Regions from separate parts of the Homo sapiens genome. Here region 2 is linked to region 1. Evidence: fine-mapped expression QTL. A gene starts in region 1. The other region holds a variant in brackets. All regions are shown on one strand. Distances are from middle to middle. Region 1 holds the start of PVR (PVR cell adhesion molecule). Region 2 overlaps IGSF23 (immunoglobulin superfamily member 23).

The links. PIP is the estimated chance that this variant, and not a neighbour inherited with it, causes the effect.
Region 2: its variant is fine-mapped to the expression of PVR in tibial nerve (GTEx, PIP above 0.99).

The regions. Positions count from the first base shown.
Region 1 is chr19:44,634,072-44,648,353 of GRCh38, forward strand. PVR (PVR cell adhesion molecule) reads left to right here and starts at 9,839. Exons shown (of 8, transcript NM_006505.5): 1 at 9,839-10,104; 2 at 13,152-13,499. The coding sequence starts at 10,026. IGSF23 (immunoglobulin superfamily member 23) reads left to right here. Exons shown (of 5, transcript NM_001205280.2): 4 at 1,330-1,394; 5 at 2,348-2,710. The coding sequence ends at 1,363. RefSeq lists an enhancer at 2,678-2,972 and a silencer at 9,791-9,870.
Region 2 is chr19:44,614,189-44,629,867 of GRCh38, forward strand. It overlaps IGSF23 (immunoglobulin superfamily member 23), which reads left to right. Exons shown (of 5, transcript NM_001205280.2): 2 at 9,519-9,784; 3 at 13,232-13,385. Among named protein-coding and RNA genes, the nearest start is that of IGSF23, 8.5 kb to the left of the region's middle. RefSeq lists an enhancer at 787-1,288. The variant A/G (reference allele first, on the strand shown) is at 3,537.

The sequences.
Region 1 (14,282 bases):
GGGGTTCCCCAGGCAGAAGGCTCACAGCTTTTGTGCAGCATAAATCTACTGCGGCACTACCGGCTGTGGCGGGGGACAGACATTGTACGGGTGTGAGGGAATGGCCTGAGCTGGAAATGCCCCAGTTTGGAATGGGGCCCAGGACAGGCCCCTCATGGCATTTCCTGAAATCAGGTTCCCTTCTTTATCAAACTTAGAGTGACACTGATTAGCCCAGTGTTTTCCTTTTTTACATGTTGGACATATTTCAGACTCAGCAGTTTTCTTTTTTCCCCTATCTGGCAGCTGACTTGCTGATTATTTCTACATTCTTTTTTAGTATGAATAGCTTGTTTAAATTCTTTGAGTAATTTACAAGGAAAAGGCTCAAATGTAGCTATAATATTTCCCTGTTGATCTGGGGGGTGTATTCTAACAGGGAACTGCCAAGCCTCTAAATCACCTTCTCTTCTAGCTTGCTGGATTCCTGCCTGAATAGAACTGACAGCAGTCGCTCCAGGCGCTGCTCGAACAGTCACTGGGGCAACTACTTTTCGCCCAGCGTCCTCCAGAAAAGAAAGAACTGGAGGGTCAGGCCACTATTTATGGCCAGTTTTGGGGCCAGTTTATGGCCAGATTTTGGGGGGCATGTTCCCAACAGAATCTCTTGAACCTGGGAGGCGGAAGTTGCAGTAAGCCAAAATAGCGCCACTGTACTCCAGCCTGGGCAACAGAACCAGACTGTCTCCAAAAAAAAGAAAAAAGAAAAAAAAAAAAAAACCCAGGGATGTGATTATACTTCCCTCCAAAGACAGGAGTGAGGATTAAGTAAAATGGTGGGAGTCATGAGCTGTGAACAGTGCCTGGAATGTGATGAGCCTTCAATAAACCTCAGCCATGTGATGATGATGATTGTATTAGTTTGCTCCAGCTGCTGTAACAAAAATGCTACAGACCGGGGGGGCTTAAACAACAAAAATTTATTTTCTCACAGTCTGGATGCTGGAAGTCCAAGATCAAGGTGGCAGCCAGTTTGATGTCCCATAGTGCCCCTCTCCATGGCTTGCAGAAGGCCACCTTCTCACTGTGTCCTCACGTGACCTTTTCTCTATGCTCATCCCTGGGGTCTCTTCCTCTTCTTGTAAGGATACCAGTCTTATTGGATCAGGACCCCACTCTTATGATCTCATTTAACCTTACTGTGTCTGAAGAATCTATCTCCAAATATAGTCACATTGGAGGGTTAGGACTACATATTAATTTGGGGAACGGATAATAATTCAGTCGATGATTCTTATTCTCTCTCTCTCTCTCTCTCTCTCTCTGTCTCTCTCTCTCTCTCCACTGCAGGACTGACAGGCAGAGAATAGGAATATGCAGCTGAAATGTGGGCAACTCTCCTGTCAGCTGAAGAGGTAATACCAGGAAGGGTGTGAAGGAAATCCTAGGTTTGGGAACAGAAAGAAGTTCTTGGGCAGAGACTCCATATGTGATTTCCTCCCTCCTGGTTCCCTGGTCATTTGTCTGTGAGATGTTCCCCTCCTGTGGAGAGCTCCAGGAGCTGCTTTTCTCTTCTTTTGCCAACTGCCAGCACCCCATCTGCCCAGCTCATCAAATTCCTGGAAGCTGCCTAAACAAGCAGTCTATATTTCATAAACCTCTTGGGCTCCATGCAAAAGAAACTCACTGACGTAGCTCAGGAAAAAATAAAATGAACAGTTTAATATAAGGACCTATGAAATTTTTCAGCAATCCATAGGTGTGAGTCAGCATTTGCTTTGTAACAAACTGCCTCCCCAAAATTCACTGGCTTGAAACAACAGCCATTTATTTAGCTTGCAATTTCATGGGTCATCCATTTGGGCTGGGCTCAGCTGGGTAGTTCTGGTCTCTGCCAGGCTCGCTCCTGCATCTGGGGTCAGTTGACAGATTGCCCAGGGGCTGTCTGGACTAGGATAGCCTCATAGCTGGGACAACTGGCCTCTCCTTCATGTTGTCTCTCATCCTCCAGCAGGGTGACCCAAGCTTGTTCACATGGCAGAGGCAGGATTCCAAGAGTAACAGCAGAAACTTCAAGGCCCCTTAAGTCTCAAGCTCAAAATGGACATGCCATCACTTCTGCCACAGAAAGGACTTCATTGGCCAAAGTTACATGACTGGCCAAATTCAAGGGATGGGGAAGTTGACTCCACCTCTTGCTAAGAAGGGAAAAATCTGTGGCCATTTTTGCAATCTACGAAGAAATGTGGAAGTACACACAGCTCTCTCTGCCAGCCTCCCCCACACACACACTTCACCCCCACCCCAAGCCCTTACAATTCCTTTCCTCCTGCATGTGGAATTTACAGTTCTCTGTCTCTCTCTGCAGATGGGTGCTTTGTACCTCTCTATCCACGTGGAAAAAAAAACCCATCCCATAGCTTCCAAGTCTACAACATCTCTGTTCAAGGGAACAACCCAACGTAACCAGACTCCCTTTGCCCTGTTTCTGAAACACCTGAAGAAAACATCTGATGGGTTGACTCGGTGCCATCCTTGGTCCCATCGCCGTGACACGTTGTGCAAGCAAAGCATCAGAGGCTCATCCCTGTCTGTGGGAGCTCAGTGCTCAGAAAACAGGGGGGAGGTTTTACCTTGGAAATTGGCCAGACCCCAAAATATGTCTTTTACACATGCTGCTTTTTTTTTCTCTTTTTCAAAAAGAACCAAAAAATAAATTAAAACACCACCACTTCTGAATGGTTTCTCATGAAGCCTCTCTTCCTGAGAGTGGGAGAGGCATGTTTGCAAATAAGATCAACCTTTGAGCTTTGCACTGTTCAAGTTTAATACCTCTCCATAGGAGGATCCTGACAGATAGCAGGCACAGGGCACACAAGTATGGCTGAAACTCCTCTGGGGGATATATCTCACATTTGAGGAAAATTCGGTGCTTCTGTGACCAACACAGAACCACCTAACATGGCATTCTGCTTAGCAATAATAGTAGCAGAACTGAGTCCAAGTCTTGTCTGTTGAGGGCTCTCCATGTGCCAGCCACTGACTATTTACCTTACATGATTAATGTGTCATAGCAGGCCAGGCGCAGTGGCTCACACCTGTAATCCCACCACTTTGGGAGGCCAAGGCAGGTGGCTCACCTGAGGTCAGGAGTTCAAGACCAGCCTGGCCAACATAGTGAAACCCCATCTCTACTAAAAATACAAAAATTGGCCGGATGTGGGGGCACATGCCTATAATCCCAGCTACCGGGGAGGCTCAGGCAGGAGAACCACTTGAACCCAGGAGGCAGAGGTTTCAGTGAGCCGAGATCATGGCCACTGTGCTCCAGCCTGGGTGAGGGAGTGACAGTATCTCAAAAATAAAATAAAATAAGTAAGAGATGTTAGCCAGGCACGGTGACTCACGCCTGTAATCCCAGCATTTTGGGAGGCCAAGGCGGGCAGATCACCTGAGGTCAGGAATTCAAGACCAGCATGGCAACATGGTGAAACCCTGTCCCTTGTTATCACACGAATGGGGATGTGGCTTGTGTGCTGCCTAATCTTGCCTAGAACTAGGTGTACCTGCGTTCTTTTGCTTATGGCTTTACCCTTGGTTACCCTAATTCCCTATTCTCCTGCCTCAAGAGGTGACCACAGCAGCCCTGGGCCTGCCCTCCTAGGGCTTATAGTACAGTGAGGGAGACAGACCTGTTCCCAGTGATGACCCAGAGTCATCACTCTCCTCTGGGAGGCCAGGGGGGAGTCTTAATGGAGACTGGAGGATCCAGGAGGGCTTCCTGGTGAGGGAGGGGTCAGCTGTACTAGAGAACAACATTAAGATCATTAATAACAAGAGCAGCCAGATGGCCGGGCACGGTGGCTCACGCCTGTAATCCCAGCACTTTGGGAGGTGAGGCAGGCAGATCACGAGGTCAGGAGATCAAGACCATCCTGGCTAATACAGTGAAACCCTGTCTCTACTAAAAATACAAAAAATTAGCTGGCGTGGTGGCAGGAGCCTGTAGTCCCAGCTACTCGGGAGGCTGAGGCAGAAGAATGGCGTGAACCCGGGAGGTGGAGCTTGCAGTGAGCCAAGATCGTTACCACTGCACTGCAGCCTGGGCAACAGAGCGAGACTCCGTCTCAAAAAAAAAAATAAATAAATAAAAGAGCAGCCAGGTCTTCTGGTTGGAGTTGGTGTTTAAGAAAAATAAAATTTAAAAATTAAAATTTTTTTGGCCGGGCACAGTGGCTCACAGCTGTAATCCTAGCACTTTGGGAGGCCGAGGCAGATGGATTGACTGAGCTGAGCTCAGGAGTTCAAGACCAGCCTGGCCAACATGGCGAAACCTTGTCTGCTAAAAATGCAAAAAAAATTAGCCAGGCGTGGTGGTGCGGGCCTGTAATCCCAGCTACTTGGGAGGCTGAAGCATGAGAATCGCTTGAACCCGGGAGGCAGAGGTTGCAGTGAACCAAGATTGTGCCACTGTACTTCAGCCTGGGCAGCAGAGCAAGACTCTGCCAAAAATAAAAAAATTTTAAAAATTGTTTAAAGAGCAGCCACGTCTCCATAGTGGTAATTGTCAGGCATCGCACCAAAGAGCTTTAATGCGTTCTTCTCAAACAGTCCTCCCACTTCAGCCTGCCAAAGTGCTGAGATTTCAGGTTTGAGCCACTGTGCCATGCTATGCCCATTTTTCAGATAAAGAATCATAAGCCCCAGGAGACATCAATAATAATTGCTGCCATTTGTTGAGCAGTTAAATAAATAACTTTTTAGACCATATATTTCTTTTTTTTTTTTTTTTTTTTTTGAGACAGAGTCTCACTCTGTTGCCCAGACTGGAATGCAGTGGCATGACGTTGACTCACTGTAACCTCCACCTCAAGTGATTCAGCCTCCCAAGTAGCTGGGATTACAGGTGTGCACGACTACCACCCAGCTAATTTTTGTGTTTTTAGTACAGATGGGGTTTCACCATGTTGGCCAGGCTGGTCTTGAACTCCTGACCTCAAAAGTGTGGGGGAAAGAAAGAGAGATCAGACTGTTACTGTGTCTATGTAGAAAAAGGAAGACATAAGAAACTCCATTTTGATCTGTACTAAGAAAAATTCTTCTGCCTTGAGATGCTGTTAATCTGTAACCCTAGCCCCAACCCTGTGCTCGCAGAAACGTGTGCTGTATTGACTCAAGGTTTAATGGATTTAGGGCTGTGCAGGATGTGCTTTGGTAAAAATGTGTTTGCAGGCAGTATGCTTGGTAAAAGTCATTGCCATTCTCCAGTCTCAAGTAACCAGGGACACCATACACTGCGGAAGGCAGCAGGGACCTCTGCCCAAGAAAACCTGGGTATTGTCCAAGATTTCCCCCACTGAGACAGCCTGAGAGATGGCCTCGTGGGAAGGGAAAGACCTGACCGTCCCCCAGCCCGACACCCATAAAAGGTCTGTGCTGAGGAGGATTAGTGAAAGAGGAAGGCCTCTCTGCAGTTGAGATAAGAGGAGGGCATCTGTCTGCTGCTCGTCCCTGGGAATGGAATATCTCGGTGTAAAACCCGATCGTACATTCTATTTACTGAGATAGGAGAAAACTGCCTTATGGCTGGAGGTGAGACACACTGGCAGCAATACTGCTCTTTACTGCACTGAGATATTTGTGTAAAGTCAAACATAAATCTGGCCTACGTGCACATCCAGGCACAGCTCCTTTCCTTAAATTTATCTATGACACCGAGTCCTTTGCTCACGTTTTCCTGCTGACCCTCTCCCCACCATTACCCTATAGTCCTGCCACATCCCCCTCACCGAGATAGTAGGGATAGTGATCAATAAATACTGAGGGAACTCAGAGACCAGTGCCGGTGCAGGTCCTCACTTGCTGAGCACCGGTCCCCTGGGCCCACTTTTCTTCCTCTATACTTTGTCTCTGTGTCTTATTTCTTTTCTCAGTCTCTCGTCTCCACCTTGTGAGAAATACTCAGAGGTGTGGAGGGGCAGGCCCCCTTCAAAATGATCCACCCACCTCAGCCTCCCAAAGTGCTGGGATTACAGGCATGAGCCACCATGCCCAGCCACATATAACTTATTTCTAAATAACTTATTTAACTAACACCACATGATTTTATGACCCCCTATTTTATGGATGAGAAAAAAGAGGCAAGAGAAGCGATACCAGTTGCTTAGGATTCCCAGCTACCAATTAGTGGAAGCAGAATTTGAACCAAGGGAGTCTCTGGAGCCCTCGTTCCCAATCTCCTTTTCTTCCTCTCCATGTCTTTCTTTCTCCCCCTGCTCCCAGGCCTCCTACATCACACCCTTCTGGACAAAGCTTCACATCTGACATTTTCTTTTTTGGGGTGGACAGAGTCTTACTCTGTCACCGAGGCTGGAGGGCCGTGGCGCAATCATGGCTCATGGCAGCCTCAAACTCCTGGGCTTGAGGGATCCTCCAGCCTCAGCCTCCCAAGTAGCTGGGACTATGGGCATGTGCCACCACACCTGGCTAATTTTTTAATTTTTTGTAGAAATACAGGGGGTGGGGGCATATCTGAAAATTTTAAACCTTCCCTGACTGCCGTGAGCATTTCTGGGTAGAAGCCACTCCACGACCTTACTTTGCTGGCATGAGTGCTGGACAGCAATTTGGCAACATCCTCTAGACCACAAATGTGCATGGCCTTTGGCCCAGCAAATCAGCTTCTGGGAATAAATATGACAGATACTGTTACATACATGGGAAATGCCATGGACATGATGACCCAGGGAAGCACAGTTTGCAAGTACAAAAGGGCTGGAAACACCCAAAAAGCCCATCCCCTGAAGACAGTTTCAAAAATGACGGTGCATTCATGTAATGGAATAGTACACATTTGTGAATGAATGAATGAGGTAGCTCAATATATCTGCCTATGGGAAAATCACCAAGATATGTTGCTAAGTGAAAAACAGAAAGATACAGAATAATGCTACCATTTTATTTTTTAATGGGAGAGGGAAGAATAAGGAAATGGATTCATATTTGCTTAATTACACAAGCTTCCTGATGATCCTTTTGGATCCAGAAGTTTGAAAACCACAGCATCAAGAGGATGCCCATTGGGCATGGTGGCTCACGCCTGTAATCCCAGCACTTTGGGAGGCTGAGGAGGGTGGATCGCCTAAGTTCAGGAGTTCGAGACCAGCCTGGCCAACATGGTGAAACCCCATCTCTACTAAAAACACAAAAAAATTAGCTGGGTATGGTGGTGCAGGCCTGTAATTCCAGCTACTTGGGAGGCTGAGGCGCAAGAATCACTTAAGCCTGGGAGGCGGAGGCTGCCGTGAGCCGAGATCACGCCATTGCACTCCAGCTTGGGAGACAGAGCAAGACTGTCTCAAAACAAACAAACACACACAAAAAATAAGATGCCCATTGGAGATCTCCATTCACTATTTTATCAGATGATATTTCAGCACTTGAGTGAAGAAAATGTCTACAACTGGTCCAAACACTCAAGGAATTTAGACTCTTGACAGAGAAACACACAGAAGCAAGCAGATATGCCCCGAACCAAACTTGCTTTTTCTTCTAAGCCTGCTTCTTCGGAGCAGCCTCTGACCCTCCAGGGCCCTGAGAGGAGTCCCTGGAGCCACAGGAGCTTGGGAGCCCAGAGAAGTGGGGGAATCCCAGATGGTGACAGCATCATCCAGAGGAGGAACATAACGATGGCCACAGATTCCCAATTTGGAAATAACTCAGCAAAACAACACTGACAGAAAATTCAGAGATTTCCAAGAGACTAGCCTCCCTGTTTCCATTTAGAAATTCACCTACATACATCCAGGGTGAGAGACCCCAAGCATCAGATGTGTCATACACAAGCATCAGATCCAAGTTAGAGAGGGCACCCGGGGACAGAAACCTCCAAGCCAGCCAAAAGCCAAAGGAAGGATTTTACAGAAAGATACAGGAATGTGGGGCCAGGCACAGTGGCTCATGCCTGCAATCCTAGCACTTTGGGAGGCCGAGGTGGGAGGATCGCTTGCGGCCAGGAATTCAAGGCCAGCCTGAGCAACATAGCGAGATCCTATCTCTACAACAAATTTAAAAACTAGCTGGGTGTGATCACATATGCCTGTGGTCCCAACTACCCAGGAGGCTGAGGCAGGAGTTGAGCCCAGGAGGTGGAGGCTGCAATGAGCAATGATGGCGCCACTTCACTCCAGCCTCAGTGAAATAGTGAGACCCTGTCTAAAAATAATAATAAAAATAAAAAACATATAAAGATGTCAGAGCACAGGGACCAGAGCTGTTAGTCGGCCTCATGGAGACCCTGGCCAGGACAGCCACCTCTGGGGACCAGGAAGTCTCTCAGTTTCTGTCTCTGAGGGTTTGGCTCTCTGAGTCTCTCTGTCACCTCTCATTTCTCTCTCATCTCCCTCTGTCTATGCTGTGTCTCTATCTCTTTCAATCTCTCTGTCTCTGTCTCCCAGCCCTTATCTCTGAGTGTGTCTGTTTCTCTCTCATTTCTCTCTCTCTCTCTCTCTCTTTCTCTCTCTCTCTTTCTCTCTCTCTCTTTCTCTCTCCCCCCTCCCTCCTCCCCTCTCCCTACTGCAGGCTGGTCCATAACCCTTATCTTCCCCAGACCTGATGGAGTTCTGGTATTAATCTGTTTATGGTCTGTTTCCCTCCACTAGAACACGGTCTTCATTAAAGGCAGAGATTTTTGTCTGTCTTATTTTCTGCTGTATACCCAGTGCCTGGGATACTGGCTGGATCAATAAATATATGCTGAATGAAGAATGAATGAATGACCATTCTCATGAACATTATTATTTGATGCCAACTGTAAAGCAACAATAATAATAATTGTCACTGCCACTGCTGCTATTGTTGGTATATCAGCTTTTTATTTAGTACAAACTATATCCCCGAAATTGAGCTAGGCAGTTTCTTGTTTAAGTTTTACAGACCACGCTGTGAGGTAAGTACTGTTAGTATGCCCTTTTTTCTTTCTTTTTGAGACAGAGTCTCACTCTGTCGCCCAGGCTGGAGTGCAGAGGCCCGATCTTGGCTCACTGCAACCTCTGCCTCCCGGGTACAAGTGATTTTCCTGTCTTAGCCTCCCCAGTAGCTGGGATTACAGGCATGTGCCACCATGCCGGCTAATTTTTGTATTTTTAGTAAAGATGGGTTTTTGCCATGTTGGCCAGGCTGGTCTTGAACTCCTGGACCTCTGGTGATCCTCCTGCCTCGGCCTCCCAAAGTGCTGGGATTACAGGCGTCAGCCACTGCGCTTGCTCCCCCAGCCCCCAAACTTTTTTTTTTTTTTTTGAGACAGGTCTGGCTCTGCCACCCAAGCTGTAGTGTAGTGGCGCAATGGTAGCTCACTGAAGCCTCTAACTCCTGGGTTCACACAGTCCTCCTGCCTCAGCCTCCCAAAATGCTGGAATTCAGGCCTGAGCCACCGCGCCCTACTATGCCCATTTTTCAGATAAAGAATCTGAGGGCCCTCGAGGAGAAACCACTTGCCCAACATGAGCCCTGGTCTTGTCTGACCCCAAAGCCCATGGGAAGTTTAGGCTGCGTGGAAGGACAGCCTGGTGGGCTCAGGATCTGTCCCATCACGAGTTGGAACCTCAGCTCTGCCACTCGGCAACCGCGAGCCGTTAGTAAGTTGCTGAATCTCTCCGTGTGCCTCCGTTTCCTCACCTGGAATGTGGGCGACCTCACACAGGAAGCCGCCTCTTCTAGTGGGCACCGACGGAGCGAGCGCGCGTCTGCAGCGGGACTGAGCGCCGGGAGAGACCTGCGCAGGCGCAGGCGCGCGGGGAGGGCCAGCCTGGGTGGCCCACCCCGCGCCTGGCGGGACTGGCCGCCAACTCCCCTCCGCTCCAGTCACTTGTCTGGAGCTTGAAGAAGTGGGTATTCCCCTTCCCACCCCAGGCACTGGAGGAGCGGCCCCCCGGGGATTCCAGGACCTGAGCTCCGGGAGCTGGACTCGCAGCGACCGCGGCAGAGCGAGCGGGCGCCGGGAAGCGAGGAGACGCCCGCGGGAGGCCCAGCTGCTCGGAGCAACTGGCATGGCCCGAGCCATGGCCGCCGCGTGGCCGCTGCTGCTGGTGGCGCTACTGGTGCTGTCCTGGCCACCCCCAGGAACCGGTGAGTGACCCCCGCGCAGTCCGGTGGCCCCTGTCTGGCTCCCAGCTCCGCATCCAGGCCGGGTACTCGCCCCCTTGGGTTCCCGAAGATGACGGCCCCGCCCGGCGCCACCCACCCCCCATCTCTGCCCCGGGGTTGGAAGGAACACGGTGCGAGGGTGCGAGGGCAGGACCCTCCTCTTGGCCACCCGGAGAGCGGTCGGAGTTGGGTACAGAAATTCCTCGAAATTGGCAGCAACACGGGTCGGGCACAAGACCCTCCTCTGGGCCCCTCGGAAAGGGGATGGAGTTGGGTGAGGAAATTTCCCAAAAAGGCAAGTGAATCCCGGAAAATCAGCAGATGGTGACGCATGCCGGATTACCTTACCCAGGTTCCTGCTCAGCATACCCAGGCCATAACCCAGCAGCGTGCTGGCAGGCTGGGTCTGGACGGAGGGGATGGTTGATGTTGGGGAGGAGGACAGTGGGTGACACTTGACACCATTACCCCTCTGACCCCCAATGTCTGACTCCAGGGGCCTGGCCATTCATTCATTCTTTCATTCTTTTTTTTTTTTTTTTGAGACAGTCTCACTCCATCACCCAGGCTGGAGTGCAGTGTCCTGCTCTCGGCTCACTGCAGCCTCCTCCTCCCGAGTTCAAGCGATTCTCCTGCTTCAGCCTCCCGAGTAGCTCGGATTACAGACATGTGCCACTATGCCTGGCTAATATTTTTGTATTTTTAGTAGATACAGGATTTCACCATGTTGGCCAGGCTGGTCTCAAACTCCTGATAAATATATATATTATATATTATTATTATATATTACATATTATAGTAATATATAATAAAAATATATAATATATATTATAGTAATATATAATATATAATAAAATATATAATATATATTATAGTAATATATAATATATAATAAAATATATAATATATATTATAGTAATATATAATATATTATAATATATTATATATATTATTATAATATATAATATGTATATTATATATTATATATATTATTATAATATATAATATGTATATTATATATTATATATATTATTATAATATATAATATGTATTATGTATTATATAATTGATAATATATAATAATATATTTCTTAATAAATATATATTAAATATATTATATATTTATAACATATATTATTTATATAATAAATAATATATATTTTATTATACATTTAAAGAGTAAATAGATAACATATTTTATTATTTATTTATATGTTTTGTGTATATATATATATATATATATATATATATAGTGCGTGTGTGCGTGTATGTGTGTGTGTGTATGAGAGAGACAAGGTCTTGCTTTGTTGCCCAGGCTGGAGTGCAGTGGTACAATCCCGGCTCATTGCAAACTCGACTTCCCAGGCTCAAGCGATCCTCTCACTGTGGCTTCTGGAGTAGCTGGGATTATAGGTGCTCACCTGGCTAATTTTTTTTGTATTTTTGGTAGAGACAGGGTTTCGCTATGCTGCCCAGGCTGGTTGCAGCCAAGCACAGTGGCTCATGCCTGTAATCCCAACACTTTGGGAGGCTGTGGTGGGAGGATCACTTGAGCTTAGGAATTCAAAACCAGCCTGGGCAATATGGCAAGACCCCATCTCTACAAAAATAATTAACTAAATAAAAATTTAAAAATAAAAAAGAATGCATAGGACCATGTTTATTAGTGTCAATAAGCGCTGTCACATTTTGAGGACCTACTATGTGCTAGGGCCCTTAGCAGAAAGATTTTTATATAGGACCTGGGGGATTAGAGGTCAGTCTCTGACCGCCCAAGTTCAAATCCCACCTCTGCCACTAAACCTCTGTATGACTTGGAGGACACTATACTCTGTGTCAGTTTCCCTGTCTGTAAAATGATGTTAACAGTAGTGCTTGCCTCAGGGGGGCTATTTGAGGATTAAATGCCAAGATATATGTGAAGCACCCAGAATAGCCCCTGATCTGTGTCAGCACCCTGTGAGTGTCCACTGTTCTAAGTCTCATTTTACAAACTAGGAAAAAGAATCAGAGAGGTTAAGTAACCGGCCTGAAGCTCCACAGCAGAAAACTGAAGGGACCCAAAACTCCTGGGCTATAATTGCCTTCCTCTCGTGCCTCAATCCCCCACATTCTTCCAACCAGGACCCACCCAGAGTAATAATGCAGTGTTTCATGGATTTGAAGACCCAAGATTTCTCCCCGTTTTCTACATTGGGGTTATTCTAACCCCTAATGGCAAGTTGTGCTATAAATGACAACAGTCATGGTATGTGAAACCTACGACACTGGTGCGATGAAAAAGTTCTGGGCCAGGTGCGGTGGCTCATACCTGTAATCCCAGCACTTTGGGAGGCCGTAGTGGGAGGATCACTTGAGGTCAGGAGTTCAAGACCAGCCTGGCCAACATGGTGAAACCCCATCTCTGCTAAAAACAAAAATACAAAAAATTAGCCAGGTGTGGTGGTGGGAGCCTGTCATCCCAGCTACGCGGAAAGCTGAGGCAGGAGAACCGCTTGAACCCCAGAGGCAGAGCTTGCAGTGAGCAGAGATCGCGCCACTGCACTCCCCCTGGGCGACAGAGAGAGACTCCGTCTCAAAAAAAAAAGAGAAGAAAAGAAAAAGTTCTGGCGCTATATAGTAGTAACGGTTGCACAATATCGTGAAATGTACATAGTGCCACTGAACTGTATGCTTTAAATGACTTAAATGGTAAATTTAGTTTTTTAACCACAATATTTACCACAATTTTTTAAATCAGTGATGTTGAGATTCAGGGAAATACGGTAATAATAGAAGAAATACGGTAATAAATAGCCAAAGTGAAGGAGCACGGCCAAGTTGCAGACCATCCCAGACGCCCTTACCCTCCTCGCCTGCCATGGCCCCAACTAGTGCCCCAGTTCCCCCTCCCCCCACACCCCACGGTCCACCGGGGATCCAGGGCCCCAGCGTGCAAGTGCACGCCCAGGTGCCCGGGCTCCTGGAGCCCCTCCCTATCTAGTCCAAGAACGCCCCGGGTCTGACACCTTCTCTTCGGTTCTCCGCAGGGGACGTCGTCGTGCAGGCGCCCACCCAGGTGCCCGGCTTCTTGGGCGACTCCGTGACGCTGCCCTGCTACCTACAGGTGCCCAACATGGAGGTGACGCATGTGTCACAGCTGACTTGGGCGCGGCATGGTGAATCTGGCAGCATGGCCGTCTTCCACCAAACGCAGGGCCCCAGCTATTCGGAGTCCAAACGGCTGGAATTCGTGGCAGCCAGACTGGGCGCGGAGCTGCGGAATGCCTCGCTGAGGATGTTCGGGTTGCGCGTAGAGGATGAAGGCAACTACACCTGCCTGTTCGTCACGTTCCCGCAGGGCAGCAGGAGCGTGGATATCTGGCTCCGAGTGCTTGGTGAGCAGGGGGTTTTGGGGAGGCTGAATGAAAGGCAGAGACTTGGTGGGAGGATCAGGGAAGTTGGCAAAGAGCGGGGAGGCCTGGGAGGGAGGGAGATTCCCTCCACAGCAGATCCCCTGGGGACAAAAGGAGGGGGCAGCGCAATGATGTGGGGTGGGGTGGGGGGAGGTGAGTGGGGGGAGGGGCTGCAGGGCAGGAAGAAAGCAGAGATCTCAGGGAGTAAGGACCCCCAAGCCTGGGATCAGAAAGCCCTGAGGGAGGAGGAGGGGTATATTGGAAAGGGAGCTGGGAGGGGACTGGGAAGGAAGGGAGGAGGCCTGGGTGGCCTCTTCTGGGTCCCTCCTTTCCTCATCTGTAAAAGGGTTGGTGACAACAGCATCACCCTTGGAAAGCTGTCCTGAGTGTCATCACTGCCTAGGAAAGAGTCTGTCTGCCCCCTTGGACTGTGTACCCATGAGGGCAGAACCGGGGCTATTTTGATCACTGCTGGGCCCCAGCACTTTCCACCAAACAATATTTATTGAGCACTTATTATGTGCCATTCTAAGAGCTTTACCTGCATATTCTAATTGCCTGTGATTCCATCATTATCACCTGTTGACAGACAAGGAAACTGAGGCACAGACTTGCCCAAGACCAAAGCTGCAGCCTTAGGGCAGCGGCGCTTCACCGCTGGCCCATGTGAGCCCCTTAGAGCTGTCGGTTACTGTTACTTTATCTGGTGAAGAAGGAGAAAGTTGAAACAGACAGACAGGAAAGCAAGGATCCTGATACCCAAAA
Region 2 (15,679 bases), 19 kb before region 1:
GAAGTGAGGCGCAAAGAGGAGAACAGGTCACCTACCCAAGATCACAGGGCTGGCAAGGGGCAGGATCAGAATTTGGGACCCCAGCCCAGCCCCCTTCCACCAGAATGCCCTGTCTCACCCCTGCAATCCGCAACTTAGTAATAATACATATAAATAATAACAATCATAAAATAATAACAGCCGTAATAGAAGGTCACTGTAACTGAATAGATCTATATACCAGCCTGTTTGGGGTTTTTGTTTTTTTGTTTTGTTTTGTTTTGAGACAAGGTCTTGCTCTGTTGTCCAGGCTACAGTGCAGTGGCCCGATAATGACTCATTGCAGCTTCAACCTGCTGGGCTGAAGCTGTTCTCCTGCCTCAGCGTCCTGCGTAGCTGGGACCATAGGTATGCGCCACCAAACCCAGCTAATTTTTTATTTTTAGTAGAGATGAGGTCTTACTATGTTGCCCAGGCTAGTCTCGAACTCCTGGGCTCAAGCGATCCTCCTGCCTCGGCCTCCCCAAGTGCCAGGATTACAGGCGTGAGCCACTGCGCCCAGCCTGTCAGCCCGTTCTAAGTGCTTTCCTATAGTAACATTTACCTCTTATCACAACTCTTTGAGATCAGAGCTGTACGATCCCTATTTCACAGAAGGGGAAACTGAGGTTCAGAGAGGTCATGTGCCCTCTCCAGGTCACACACTTGGAAGTGGCAGACTGAAGATTTGAAGCCAGATGGGCTGGCTTCCCAGACCACACTTTCCAGAGACCACACACATCTGCCTCTCAGATAGTGAATGAATTGCTTCCTTATCCAGGTCTTAAAAGTTCACTTCTGAGTTGGGCGCGGTGACTCACACCTGTAATCCCAGCACTTTGGGAGGCCGAGGCAGGCGGATCACGAGGTCAGGAGATCGAGACCATCCTGGCTAACACGGTGAAACCCCGTCTCTACTAAAAATACAAAAAATTAGCCAGGCCTGGTGGCGGGCGCCTGTAGTCCCAGCTACTCAGAAGGCTGAGGCAGGAGAATGGCGTGAACCCGGGAGGCGGAGCTTGCAGTGAGCCAAGATCGTGCCACTGCACTCCAGCCTGGGCGACAGAGCACGACTCCGTCTCAAAAATAAATAAATAAAGTTCAGTTCTGAGCCGGGTGCAGTGGCTCACGGGTGCAGTGGCTGGGATTACAAAGTGCTGTAATCCCAGCACTTTGGGAGGCCAAGGCGGGCGGATCATCTGAGGTCAGGAATTCAAGACCAGCCTGACCAACATGGAGAAACCCCGTCTCTACTAAAAACAGAAAATTAGCTGGGCGTGGTGGTGCATGCCTGTAATCCCAGCTACTTGGGAGGCTGAGGCAGGAGAATTGCTTGAACCCAGGAGGCGGAGGTTGCGGTTAGCTGAGATGGTGCCATTGCACTCCAGCCTGAGCAACAAGAGCGAAACTCCATCTTTAAAAAAAAAAAAAAAAAGTTCAGTTCCATGTAATTTTAAAACCTCAAAGTCCACCTAGTTCAAAGCTTTGCTCTGTCCCCAGCTCAGGCAGGTGTCACACTGGAAGGAGGAAAGGGACGTGGTGGGCCTCTTCCCTATTTTGTCAGAGCTGTTGTCTGAGGCCTCTCTCAGGGCGGAGGGCAGAGGGGAGGAAGGAAAGAAAAGGAGATTGGAAAGTTTCTCCTAGGCTGCTGTAGTTTTGTGATGGAAACACGGCATGCTGTGTGTTGCTGGATCTTCCTGGGGGCGGGAGGGTGGGGTACTTTGGAAATTGGCTGTGCCACTGGATAAAACAGCAACCAGTTTTTAGAAAGTGGTTTACAACATGTTTGCAAAGTGAGCTGGGGGAGCTTACAAAACATTGTCCAAAGGAAAACAAAGCCACAGTGCAACGAACTTCAACTCTGTAAATACAAAATGTTCTCTTGATAACAGCAGGTACCTCGAGAGTGTGACCAGGACAAGCGTAGGGGTGGAGGTCAAAGGGATATTTGGCTTTATATGGGTCTACTTTTTTTTCCTAAGGAGAAGCTCTTGAGTGATTAAAAATTAATTTTAAAAATTATGAAAAACCTTCAAAGAAAATATACTCCCCAAAGTGGTTATCTGAGTATTAGGCTTAAGGATTTGTTTTACTGCTTTTTACTTTACTTTCCAAATTATTCTATAATGAGGAGCAGACGTTGTTTTTTGTGATGCCTTGTAAGAATTGCTGAACATAATTCTACTTTTTGTTTAAAAGAAATAGAAACAGCCAGGCGTGGTGGCTCACACCTGTAATCCCAGCACTTTGGGAGGCCCAGGCAGGCGGATCACAAGGTCAGGAGATTGAGACCATCCTGGCCGACATGGTGAAACCCTGTCTCTACTAAAATACAAAAAAATTAGCTGGGCGTGGTGGCGCACGCCTGTAGTCCCAACTACTCGGGAGGCTGAGGCAGGGGAATCACTTGAACCCGGGAGGTGGAGCTTGCAGTGAGCCGAGATTGCACCACTGCACTCCAGCCTGGCGACAGAGCGAGACTCCATCTCAAAAAAAAAAAAAAAAGAAGAAGGAAATAGAAACAATAACAAGCATAAAGCTTGAAAAAAAAAAACAGTAAAAGTTTCCAAAACATAGTGTTTATTTCTAGGAGTCTAAGTTTTCTGCTATAAAAATGGAAATAAATAAATATATATATATGAGTATATATGAGTAATACCATATATGTAGAGAGAGAGAGGGAGAGAGAGAAAAAGAGAGAGAGAGAGAGGGAGAAAGGTCTTGCTCTGTCACCCAGGCTGCAGTGCAGTGGCAGGATCATAGCTCACTGAAACCTCAAACTCCTGGACTTGAGGAATCTTCCCACCTCAGCCTCCTGAGTAGCTGGGACTACAGGCGCGTGCCACCATGCCCAGCGAATTTTTTATTTTTGTAGAGACAGGGCCTCACTCAGTTGCCCAGGCTAGTCTTGAACTTCTGGCTCAAGTAATCTTCCAGCCTTGCCCCACCCCTCCCCCCGCCCCCGCAAAGTGCAGGATTACAGGTATGAGCCAACACACCGGCCTACTCTTATATTAAAAAAAAAAAAAAAATGCCTATCAGGAGTGAAAGGATTAGGTGTGGTGCCCAAGAGACGCAGGGATTCTTTTTGGGGTGACGAAAATGTCCTTAAATTGCTTGAGGTGATGGTTGCCCAATTCTGTGAGTATACTAAAAGCTCTTGAATTGTACGCTTTAAATGAGTAAATTATTGGCTAAGAAAGTAGATTTTATGTGTTCTCACCACAAAAAAAATAAGTACATGAGGTAATGCATATGTTAATTAGCTCAATTTAGCCATTCCACAATGTATATGTATTTTAAAACATCACATTGTACACCATAAATATACACAATTTGTATTTGTTAATTTTAAAAAGAAAAAATAGTGGCAAGGTTATAACTTAATCAGTGTCCAGAACAAACATTATGTCACCCTTTAAAAATGTACCATTCACATTGATTTATAACCCTTTATTATTTCTAAATAAGGTGGTGAGAAAATGTTGGGTGAGGGGTTGGGTAGGAGTAAATGGAGC[A/G]AAGCAGATCCCAGAACCAGAAGACATTAGTAGTATATGGAGAGAGACACTCAACAGGAGCTGTGGGCTGGAACAGAAGGACCCAGCCAACTGTAGGACTAATCCCTTCAAGCTTACTCCCCCGCTGCCCTCTCCTCTTCTGCCAACGTGCCCACTGACAGAAACCAACCAGCAGCAAAAGGTAAGGGGACCCCAACAACACAGCTCAGAGAAGTCAGCCTTTCAGGCAGCAGAGTGGAGCAGAGAAGGGTAGAAAACCAATTTTTGCAACATCCAGTATAATATACGTGCGTGCTTCAAGGGGTCAAGGAGAGGAATCAATGATTCCTCCTCCTTCCCTGCTCTTCCAAGGCGCCCTGCTCACATCCTGCACCTGCTCTGCCTTCTCAGAGCTGCCCTTCTCGGCACAGCTGAACACCTTGACCGAAGGAGCCAGTGTCCATCTTCCTGTCCCCGGAAGGCTTGAAGGCATTCTCACCACGTCTTGGTTCTGAGGGTATGACGCCCAGCCAGCAGCCATGATATTCTCCCCGAAGGGCCTCCCAGGACCTGCTCACACTGGCCGGGAGATGCTGGGAACCCAAGGCAGCCTGGTCATTAGAAAATGACGGCTCAGGACTCGGGCAGCTACACCGTCGTGCTGGAAACCAGCAGGGGACACAGGAGTGTGACGGAGCAGATCCATGTCAAGAGTGAGTGGGGCCCCGCAGTGGGAGGGGCTGACTTCTCAGAAAGCAGACCCACTGGACCTCAGAAGAGCCCACCAGGACACTTTGCATGCTGGTTATCCATTGCTCCCCAATAAACCACCCCAAAACTTAAAACATCAATCACTTATCTAGCTGGACAGTTGTTGTGTTCAGCTGTTGGGGTGTCTGGGTGTTGGCTGGTCCAGAATGACCTCCTTCATGTGCCTGGCCATGGACCAGCTGGTGGCTGGAGTGATGGGGATGAGTGGGCCACATAGCCTCCCAACCTCCAGCAGGCTATCCCAGGCTTGTTCACTCAGCAATGGAAGAGGAACAAGAGGTAAAGCTGCAAAACTCCTTCAGGCCCAGGCTCAAAACTGACCACCATCACTTCTGCCACCTTCTATTGGTCAAAGCAAGTCACATGGCCAGCCCAGCTTCAACAGGAAGGAAAAAGGCCCCACCTCTTAAGGAGAGGAGTTGCAATGTGTTGTGGCTATTTTTTGTCGTTGTGTTAGATTGTTCTTCCATTGCTATAAAGACATACCTGAGACTGGGTTATTTATTTAAAAAAAAAAAAAAAAGAAGAAGACGTTTGATTGGCTCATGGTTCCACAGGTGGAAGTGTAATGCCAGCATCTGCTCAGCTTCTAAGGAGCCCTCAGGGAGCTTTTAATCATAGCGAAGGCAAAGGAGGAGCAGGTGTCTCCCGTGAGAACAGGAGCAAGAGAAAGAGAGAGTCAGAGAGGAAGTGCCACATTTTACAACAATCAGATCTCATGAGAACTCACTACCATGAGGACAGCGTCAAGCCATAAGGGATCCGCCCCTGTGGCCCAAACACCTTTACTGAGGCCCCACCACCAACACTGGGGATCGCATTTCAACATGAGATTTTGGCAGGGATAAATATCCACATTATAACAGCCAAGACTTGCAACAGACATTCATGAGATACGCATTCATCATCACTTGGGAAAGGTAGAGAAGGTCTGGTAGCAGCCTTCAACCTCATCTATATTTTTATCACCTGGACTCAAACTTTCATATCTGAATTAGGAAAACAAAGCCCTGAGAGTAACCAGACCCATCCTCCTTTTAGAAGATAGTCCAGAGACTGTCCTAGTCGGCTCGGGCAAAATACTCTAGGCTTAATCAACAGAAACTTATTCCCTCACAGTTCTGAAGGATGGATTGCAAGATGAAGCTGCTGGCAGGTTTCATCTCCTCTGAGGCCTCTCTTTTTTGACTTGCGGAAGGGTGCCTTCTCATTCTGTCCTTGCATGGTCTTTCTTCTGTGTGTGCACATCCCTGGTGTCTCTCTGTGTGTCCAAACTTCCTCTTCTTATAAGGGCACCAGTCAGGTTGGATTAGGACCCACCCTAACAACTTCATTCTAACTTAATCACCTCGTTAAAGACCTTATCTCCAAATACGGTCACATTCTGAGGTACTGGGGGTTAGGGTTTCAACATATATGTTTGGTGGGGGACTCAATTCAGTTCATAACAGAGATCAACTTAGTTAGGGTTCAGATTCTGATGCTCTAACAAAGACTCAAAAAGTTCCAGTGTCGGCCAGGCGCAGTGGCTCACGCCTGTAATCCCAGCATTTTGGGAGGCCAAGGCGGGCAGATCACGAGTTCAGGAGTTCAAGACCAGCCTGACCAACATGGTGAAACCCCGTATTTATTAAAAATACAAAAATTAGCCGGGCATAGTGGCAGGCGCCTGTAATCCTAGCTATTCAGGAGACTGAGGAAGTAGAATCGCTTGAACCTGGGAGTCGGAGGTTGCAATGAGCCAAGACCATGCCACTGCACACTTAGAACCCCACTTCTGCACAGAGGGGTTTTTACTCCCCTCCCAGAGAATTTATGGACCGCTGAGGTTCATCCATCTGTATTTCTGTGATTTGATGACTAATTTTGTGTGTGTGTGTGTGTGTGTGTGTGTGTGTGTGTGTGTGTGTGAGATGGAGCCTCGCTCTGTCGCCCAGGCTGGAGTGAAGTGGTGCGATCTCGGCTCACTACAACCTCCACCACCCGGGTTCAAGCGAGTCTCCTGCCTCAGCCTCCTGAGTAGCTGGGATCACAGGCGCCCGCCACCACGCCCGGCTAATTTTTATATTTTTAGTAGAGACAGGGTTTCACCATGTTGGCCAGGCTGGTCTCAAATTCCTGACCTCAGGTTATCCACCTGCCTTGGCCTCCCAAAGTGCTGGGATTACAGGCGTGAGCCACCGGGCCCGGCCTGAAGGCTAATTCTTCTAAAGGCCTGGCTCCACACCTTCGCCTATGCCATTCTCAGTCCGAAGGGCCCTTTCTAAAGAGAGAGGTTGCAGGAACTCACGCTCGGTGGTGCAGGCTGTGTGGCCAGAACTCCCTGGATCAAATCCCTCTGGCATCTGTTATGCCCCTGAGTCCCTGCAAAAAAGTAACTTTCTGTTTTGCACTTCAGTTTCCCCATCTGTGCAATGAGGTCATAGTGGAACCTACCTCATAGGGTGACTGTGAGGAGTAAGTGAGTTAATCAGTGCTAAATGCCTACAACAATGCCTGACAAAGAGCAAGTAAATGTTAGCCCTGGCCAGGTGCTATGGCTCACACCTGTAATCCCAGCAGTTTGGGAGGCCGAGGTGAGAGGATTGCTTGAGCTCAGAAGTTCGAGACCAGCCTGGGCAACATGATGAGACGCCCATCTCAACAAAGAATTTAAAAATTAGCCAAGCCTGGTGATGTGCGCCCATAGTCCCAGCTACTCAGGAGGCTGAGATGGAAGGATCCCTTGAGCCCGGGAGGTTGAGGCTGCAGTGAGCTGTAACCTTGCCACTGCACTCCAGCCTGGGGGACACAGCAAGACCCTGTCTCAAAAAAAAAAAAAAAAAAATAGCCCTGTTTGTTTCAAAGGACTTGACTTCTTTGAGCCTTCCTTTTCTCATCAAAATGGGAATAAGGCCGGCACGGTGGCTTACACCTTTAACCCCAGCACTTTGGGAGGACAAGGTGGGTGGATCACTTGAGCCCGGGAGTTCAAGACCAGCCTGGGCAACATGGTGAGACCCCATCTCTACAAAAAATAGCTGGATGTAGTGGCGCACGCCTGTAATCCCAACTACTCTGGAGGAGACTTTGAGCCCGGGAGGTGGAGGTTGCAGTAAGCTATGATTGCACCACTACACTCCAGCCTGAGTGACAGAACAAGACCCTGTCTCAAAAAAAAAAAGGAATAATAATAATTACTTCATAGGATTGTTGTGAGGATTAAATGAATAAATCCAGTGGCTTTCATGAGAAATGCTTTTCACATCATGTCCAGTATATCCCACAACTAACCAAAAGGCAAGTGTAGTAACAGTTATTACTATGAGTAATGCTCTCTGATGTTTTCTATAATATTTCTTTTCATGTTTTGAATGTTGATCACAGTCTACTAATGATTTAGACACCTGGGCATGGGTCTCGCATGCAGTATAACAAGCCATGGATTAACACGTGTGCTTGGCTCACAGTAAGAGCCCAATCCATGGCCGGGTATGGTGGTTCATGCTTGTAATCCCAGCACTTTGGGAGGCCGAGGCGGGTGGATCACCTGAGGTCAGGAGTTTGAGACCAGCCTGGCCAACATGGTGAAACCCCATCTCCACTAAAAATACTAAAATTAGCCGGATGTGGTGGCGGGTGCCTATAATCCAGCTATAGAGAGGCAGAGGCAGGAGAATTGCTTGAACCCAGGGGGCAGAGGTTGCAGTGAGCCAAGCTCCAGCCTGGATGAAAAAGCAAAACTCCGTTTCAAGAAAAAAAAAAAAAAAAGAGCCCAATCCAGGTGGCTGTTATATTGCCTCTTGTTTGTACACCTAGTGGGCTCTTTCTCCTCCTTCAAGGCTTAACTCAGACACCTCCTCCAGGAAGCCTTTCATGAGGTCTCTGGTTGTGCTAAAGTTCTTTTCACTTATAACATTGCATTGAAATCAGAAATCAGCTCTAAGTGGAAGTTCCCAGCACAGTCTGGGAGTTCAAATCCCAGATGTGTCCCTACTAGACCACGAAGCCTGGCCCTAATGAGCCCCAAACCTCAGAGCCTTTCACCTGAAAAATGCAGACAAGAAGTGGGGACCTCTTGGGTCACCTCCTCGCTGGGCTGTTTCCACTCCTCCAAACTTAAAGTCAAGTTCTCACATGATAGCCAGAGTGAGCCTGTTCAAACCTAAGCCAGCTCACGTCCCTCCTCTGGGCAGTCCTCCCATGGGTCCTACTGCACTCAGAGTCAAAATCAGAGTCCTCACCCTGGCCCAGGAAACCCCAGCATGATCTGCTCCCATTATCTCTCTGACTTCTTCTCCCAGCCCTCTCTCCCTTTCCCTCCTCTCTATGCCCACCTTGGCTCACACCCATCTCAGGGCCTTTTACTTGGTGTTCCCTCTGCCTGGAACATTTTTTTCTTAGGAATCCACATGGCTTATTCCTCTGCTTCTTCAGGACTCTGCTCAAACATAACCTCCCCAAAGAGGTCCTCCTTGACCCACCTTACCTGAAACGGGTTTACCCCACCCCCAGTCCAACCCCACAGCCCTGTGCAGTTTTCCTCACAGCCCTTACCACCACTATATATACTTGTCAGTTTGTTGACCCTCTCCTCACTCAATCGTAAGTTTCATGAGGGCAGCAACAGCGTCTGTTTAATCACTGCTGAGCCCCCGAGTCCTAGAGCCTTAGAGTCCTAGATTTGGTTCACCCAGATCCAGAGGCGAGGATTCAAGGACAGATAGTCTGTTTGGGAGGTGCAAGGAACTCGAGAGTGGGGAAGTTAGGCAGAGAAGGCAGGAAATAATAAAAGCTGTGTTCCCAAGCTGGTTACCATGGGCAACTGGAGCACAGTCCCATTGGGGAACTCAGGCCCTGGTGTGGAATGACTCTGCAGAGTTATCCCACATAGCAGAGAGGGAGCTGGGGAATTTATATACCAACGTGTCCTGGCATTGTGGAGGGCTGCTCCCTGATGTGCTCATTCCCCAGCACTTCCAGCCTGCTGCCTCCATGGGCAGAGTAGGCTTTGGCCACCAGTGAAAGTCCTCAGGCAACGGGATGCAGGTGCTGGCCGTTGGAAGTGGGAAGGGCAAGGGGTTGGACTGGGGGCACTGGGCACAGACCAGGCTCTTCAAACACATTCATGGGTGAATTAATGAATGAATGAACACATGAAAGAATGGATGTCTCTATGGTGGGCAGAAGAAATGCCCAGCTTTTCTGAGTGGACTCCACTCTTGTGGCCTTGTTCCCTGTTTGCACAGACAGCCTCCAACTAATGCCACTGAAGACATTCCCAGCTGCTATCCGGGGAGTCATCCAGAGTGAGCTCAACTATTCTGTGATCCTGCAGTGGGTGGTGACAATGGACCCTGAGCCTGTGCTGAGCTGGACCTTCAGTGGGGTGCCCTGTGGGATGGGAGAGAAGCTGTTCATCCGACGGTTGTCCTGTGAGCAGCTGGGCACCTACATGTGCATAGCCACAAACAGCAAGAAACAGCTGGTCTCTGAGCCTGTAACCATCTCGCTGCCAAGTGAGTCCCCCATTCCACCCCACCCCACCCCACCCAAGAGCCCTGCACCCTCTCCAGCCTGTGGCAGCCTCTATGATTCCATTAAGCCACCTACTATGAGCAGTCCCCTGTGAGACCCTTTATAGGCAAAATGTCATTCCAATGTTCCATCCACCTGGCGGACTGTGGATTATTAGGCCACTTTCTTCTTCTTTCTTCTTTCCTCTTCTTCTTCTTTTCTTTCTTCTTCTTTTTCTTTCTTCTCCTTCTTTTCCTCCTCCTCCTCCTCCTTCTTCTTCCTTCTTCTTCTCCTTCTCCTTCTTCTACTTCTTCTTCTTCTTTTTTTTTTTTTTGATAGAGTCTTGCTCGGTCACCCAGGCTGGAGTACAGTGCTGTGATCTCAACTCACTGCAACCTCTGCCTCCCAGGTTCAAGTGATTCTCATGCCTCAGCCTCCTGAGTAGCTGGGATTACAGGCATGCACCACCACATCTGGCCTATTTTTGTATTTTTAGGAGAGACGGGGTTTCACTGTGTTGTCCAGGCTGGTCTCGAACTCCTGGGCTCGAGTGATCCACCCACCTTGGCCTCCCAAACTACTGGGATTACAGACATGAGCCACCTCGCCCAGCCAATTAGGCCATTTTCAGATGACAGGCTGAGGCTCAAAGAGGTTAACTATGATGAAAGCCCAGCTTAGGATCTGGACCAGGCTACCTGGGTCCTTGGCTCCAACCATTTGCTTGTTACATGAACATGGGAAGCCTCTTTGCCTCTCTGAGTCTCAGCACATACCTACAAAAAATGCAGATCAAAATCTAAGGAGTGGGCCAGGTGCAGTGGCTCACACCTGTAACCCCAGCACTTTGGGAGGCTGAGGCAGGAGGATCACTTGAGCCCAGGAGTTAGAGACCAACCTGGACAACATAGTGAGACCCTGTCTCTACCAAAAAAAAAAAAAAAAAAAAAAACTAAAAATTTAATCAGGCATGGTAATGCCACCTGTAGTCCCAGCTGCAATGGGAGGATCACTTGAGCCCAGGAGTTTAAGGCTACAGTGAGCTGTAATCGCACCACTGCACACCAGCCTGAGTGACAGAGGATGACTGTCTCAAAAAAAAAATCACCATTGTCATCATCTAAGGAGTGGTTCAAAGCAATGGCTTTGGAATTTGAATCCCTGGCTGTGTGACTCTGAGCCAGTGCCTTGACTTCTCTGTGCCTCAGTTTCCTCATCTATAACACTGGGAAGATAATAGTGCCTACCCCAGTGTGTAGTTGTGAGCATTCAATGAGATAAGCCGGTGAATAGCTTAAAACAATAATGTCTAGCACTATCGAACACTAATGAGTGCTCAATAACCGTGAGCCAATAACACTGTTGCAATTAGCATTGTCATTATTAATTGTAGCTATTACCATATACAGTCGGTATATGGAGCCCTAGGTGGCAATCAAAATGACAGCAAGTTGTTGAGATCAGAGAAGTGGTTTGGGACCTGGTCAAAACTCAGTTCAGTCCCTGTTCCCGTGCCTTCCTGGCTGGGTAACTTAGCGCAAGTGACTTCCCCTCTCTGAGCCCCAGTTTCCTCATGTGTATAATGGAGGTAATCCTATATACCTCTTCAGGGTTGTTATAAGGAACGAAAACAAGGGGTGACTGAGTTTGGCAGAACAACTGTCAGGCAGCAGGTGCCTTGAATAGCAGCTGTTATGGTGAATATTGTTTTTAGTGTGTTATTCATGGAGGGACACATGGTGATATGGTTTGGCTGTGTCCCCACCCAAATCTCATCCTGAATTGTAGCTCTCATAATCCCCATGTGTCATGAGAGGGACCCGGTAGGAGGTAACTGAATCATGGGGTCAAGTTTTTCCCATGCTGTTCTCGTGATAGTCAATAAGTCTCACGAGTTCTGATGGTTTTACAAAAGGCAGTTCCCCTGCACACATTCTCTTGCCTGCCGCCATGTAAGACATGCCTTGCTCCTCCTTCACCTTCTGCCATGATTGTGAGGCCTCCCCAGCCATGTGGAACTGGGAGTCCATTAAACCTCCTTTTTTTTAATAAAGTACCCAGTCTCAGGTATTTCTTCATAGCAGTATGAAAATGGACTACCATGGCTTGGAGTGAACTAGAGGTATGCAGAGGAACTGGCCAGGAGAGAAGAGAGGGAGGGTATTTGGGGTAGGAAAGAATGCATGAGTCAAGGTTCAGAGCTGGGACATGGAAATGGAATGCGTGATGGGAATCTCAGCTTGGCTGGGTCCCAGAGAACCACCTCACCTCCCTGGCCAGGGTCCAGTGGGAGCTTCAGGGCTGATGCACTGGGGGAAAAAATGTAAATCTTATATCACCTAGTGACCCTGATATTCAGTGAGAAGGACAATACTTCCAAGACCTCCTTTGCTCATTCATCAACTGCCCAGGAAATGTTTATGAGCACTTGCTGTGTGGCCAGCCCACACAGCTGGGAACACTCTGGTGACCAAGACAGCTGCAGCCCTGCCTTCACAAGACTTACAGTCCAGTGTCCACAGACAGTGATCACCAGAGTGGGCAGGGCTGGGATGGGGGAGCCCAGAGAGCTATGAGACTCAGCCTAGGAGTTAAGGAGGGCTTCCTGGAAGAAGGGACACCTGAGCTGAGAATTATGCTTAGCTGGCCAGGTACAGTGGCTCATTCCTGTAATCTCAGCACTTTGGGAGGTTGAGGCGGGTGGGTCACTTGAGGCTAGGAGTTTGAGACCACGCTGGCCAACATGGTGAAGTAGATGGTGAAGAAGATGGTGAAACCCCATCTCTACTAAAAATACAAAATTTAGCTGGGAATGGTGGCATGTGCCTGTAATCCCAGCTACCAGGGAGGCTGAGACACAAGAATTACTGGAACCCAGGAGGTGGAGGTTGTAGTGAGCTAAGATTGTGCCACTGCACTCCAGCCTGGTGACAGAGGGAGACTCTGTCTCAAAAAAAAAAAAAAAAGGAATTATGCAAGCCAAGAGAGAGAGATGGCATTCCAGAGAGACAGTGCAGCATGGACAGGCCTGGAGGCAAGAGAGAAAGAAAGGGATGAGCTTGGAAAATTGAGTGGAGTCCAGGGTTGCATGGCTATAAAGGCAGGGCAATGAGAGAGATGAGGCTGGCCAGGTGGCAGGGCCTCGAAGGCTAAGGTGAGAAACTGACTTCTGCCCCAGGGTGCTGGGAAGCCACAGCAGGGTTCTGAGCAGGGGAGGAACAGGGTCAGGTGTGAGCTTTAGAAAGATCCTCCTGGCTTCCATGTGGTAGGAAGGTGGATGGGTGCTGGACTAGGGCAGGAGAGCAGGGAGGAGAGGGGGCCAGAGACCTGGAGGATGGAAGAGAAGGATGGATTGAAGAGACACTTGGGAGGGGGAATGGCAGGAGGGAGGGGTGCACAGGGAGGGCGGGCAGATGGCTCCTCCAATCTCACCCCTCCTTGGTCCCCAGAACCCATCATGCAGCCCACAGAAGCAGAGCCCATGGAGCCAGACCCCACTCTGTCCCTGTCAGGAGGCTCTGCCATCGGGCTCCTTGCGGCTGGGATCCTGGGAGCCGGGGCACTGATTGCAGGCATGTGTTTCATCATCATCCAGAGCCTAAGGTACCTCTATCCCTCACCCCCGTCCACTGGGCAACATCCACTCAGCCCCCATGGGGCACAGAGCTGGCTCAACAAGGAAACAGAGATGAAACCAACACCCCCATCAGGGAGGGTGATAGCGACTCCTGAGGAGCCCATCTGACTCACTGGTTTCCAAAATGGGATCACAGCAACAAAGAGATAGAAGAGGACACTAGAGCTGGGCTGTCTGGCTTCAAGTCCCAGCTCTGTAACTTACTAGCAGTGAGGCTGTGGGCAAGCCACTCCCCTTCTCTGTGCCTCAGTTTGCCCATCTGCAAAATGGGGATGATAATAATAGCATCTGACTCTCTGGGTTGTTGGGTTGGGTTGTTGTGAGTGAATTTTTCTTTTTCTTTTTTTTTTTTTTTGAGATGGAGTCTTGTTCTGTTGCCCAGGCCGGAGTGCAGTGGTGCGATCTCGGCTCACTGCAACCTCTGCTTGCCAGGTTCAAGCAGTTCTCCTGCCTCAGCCTCCTGAGTAGCTGGGATTACAGGTGCATACCACCACGCCTGGCTAATTTTTGTATATTTAGCAGAGACAGGGTTTCGCCATGTTGGTCAGGCTGATCTCAAACTCCTGACCTCATGATCTGCCTACCTCAGCTTCCCAAAGTTTTGGGATTACAGGCATGAGCCACTGCACCCGTCCAGTGAGTGAATATTTCTAAGAAACTTAAAGCAGTGCCTGGAATGTGGTAAGTACTATGTTCGTCCTCTCTACACATATCTGCAGTGACCGCTCTGTGCCAGGCACTGAGGATACCGAGGGAAGAAACAGCAGAAAGACCCTGCCCTCATGGAACTTGCATCCTGGTCGGGGACACCATCAAGAAACACAATGAATGAGTGAAATATAGATAGTATATTGGATGGGCCAGGTGTAGTGGCTCACACCTGTAATCCCAGCACTTTGGGAGGCCGAGGTGGGTAGATCACTCGAGCCCAGGAGTTTGAAACCAGCCTGAGCAACATGACAAGACATCTTGTCATCTCTCTCAAAATATAAAAATTAGCCAGGCATGGTGGCATGCACTTATAGTCCCAGCTACTCAGGAGGCTGAGATGGGAGGATCACCTGAGCCCAAGGAAGTCTAGACTGCAGTGAGCTAGGATCATGCCACTGCACTCCACACTGGACACAGAGTGAGACCCTGAGTCAAAAAAGTAATAATAATAAATCTTTTAAAAAAGATAGTATGTTGGATGAGCGCTAAGGAGAGGAGTGAGGCTGGGAAGCAGGACAAAGATTGTGGAGTGGGGTGGCATTTAACGAGTCAGGGAAGGCCTCCCTGGGACAGTGACATTTGAACAAAGGGAGGGAGTGGGGAGCCACGTGAGGGTCTGAAGGAATGGCATATCCAGCAGAGGGAACAGCAAGTGCAAAGGCCCTGAGGCAGGATTGCCTGGCATGTTCAGGAAATAGTGAGGAGCCCAGGGTGGCCAGAGTGGTGTGAAGAATGGGCAGAGAAGTAACATGTGGGTCAGAGAGGGAGTAGGGAGGCAGGGGAAGGCAGCTAGACCCTTGCATAAGGCCTTGTAGGCTCTCTGAGCACTTGGCTTTTGCTCTGAGTGAGATGGAAGCCATGGAGGGTCTAGTGCAAGGGAAGGATGGCATCTGACTTATATTTGATCCTATATGTTGGCTAGTACTACAACGCTATTAATATCTTACCATCAGCAAGGCATGGTGGCCCACATCTGTAATCCTAGCACTTTGGAAGGCCAAGGCAGGAGGATCACTTGAGCCTAGGAGTTTGAGACCGGCCTGGGCAACATAGTGAGACCCCGTCTCTACCAAAACTAAAGTTTTTTTTTTTTAATTAGCTGAGTATGGTAGCACGTACCTATAGTCCCACCACTTGGGAAGCTGAGGTGGGAGGATTGCTTGAGCCCAGGAATTTGAGGCTGCAGCGAGCGATGATCGTGCCACCACACTCCAGCCTGCTTGACAGAGCAAGACCCTATTTCTAAAAATTAAAAAAATAATGTTTTTAAAAAACTTGATCTTACCATGTATTGAGCACCTATTATATGCTTTCTTTTTTTTTTTTTTTTTTTTGAGACGGGGTCTCACTCCATTGCCAGGCTGGAGTGCAGTGGTGCAATCTCGGCTCACTGCAACCTCCACCTTCTGGGTTGAAGTGATTCTCCTGCCTCAGCCTCCCAAGTAGCTGGGACTACAGGCGGGCACCACCATGCCCAGCCAATTTTTGTATTTTTAGTAGAGACGGAGTTTCACCATGTTGGCCAGGATGGTCTTGATCTCTTGACCTC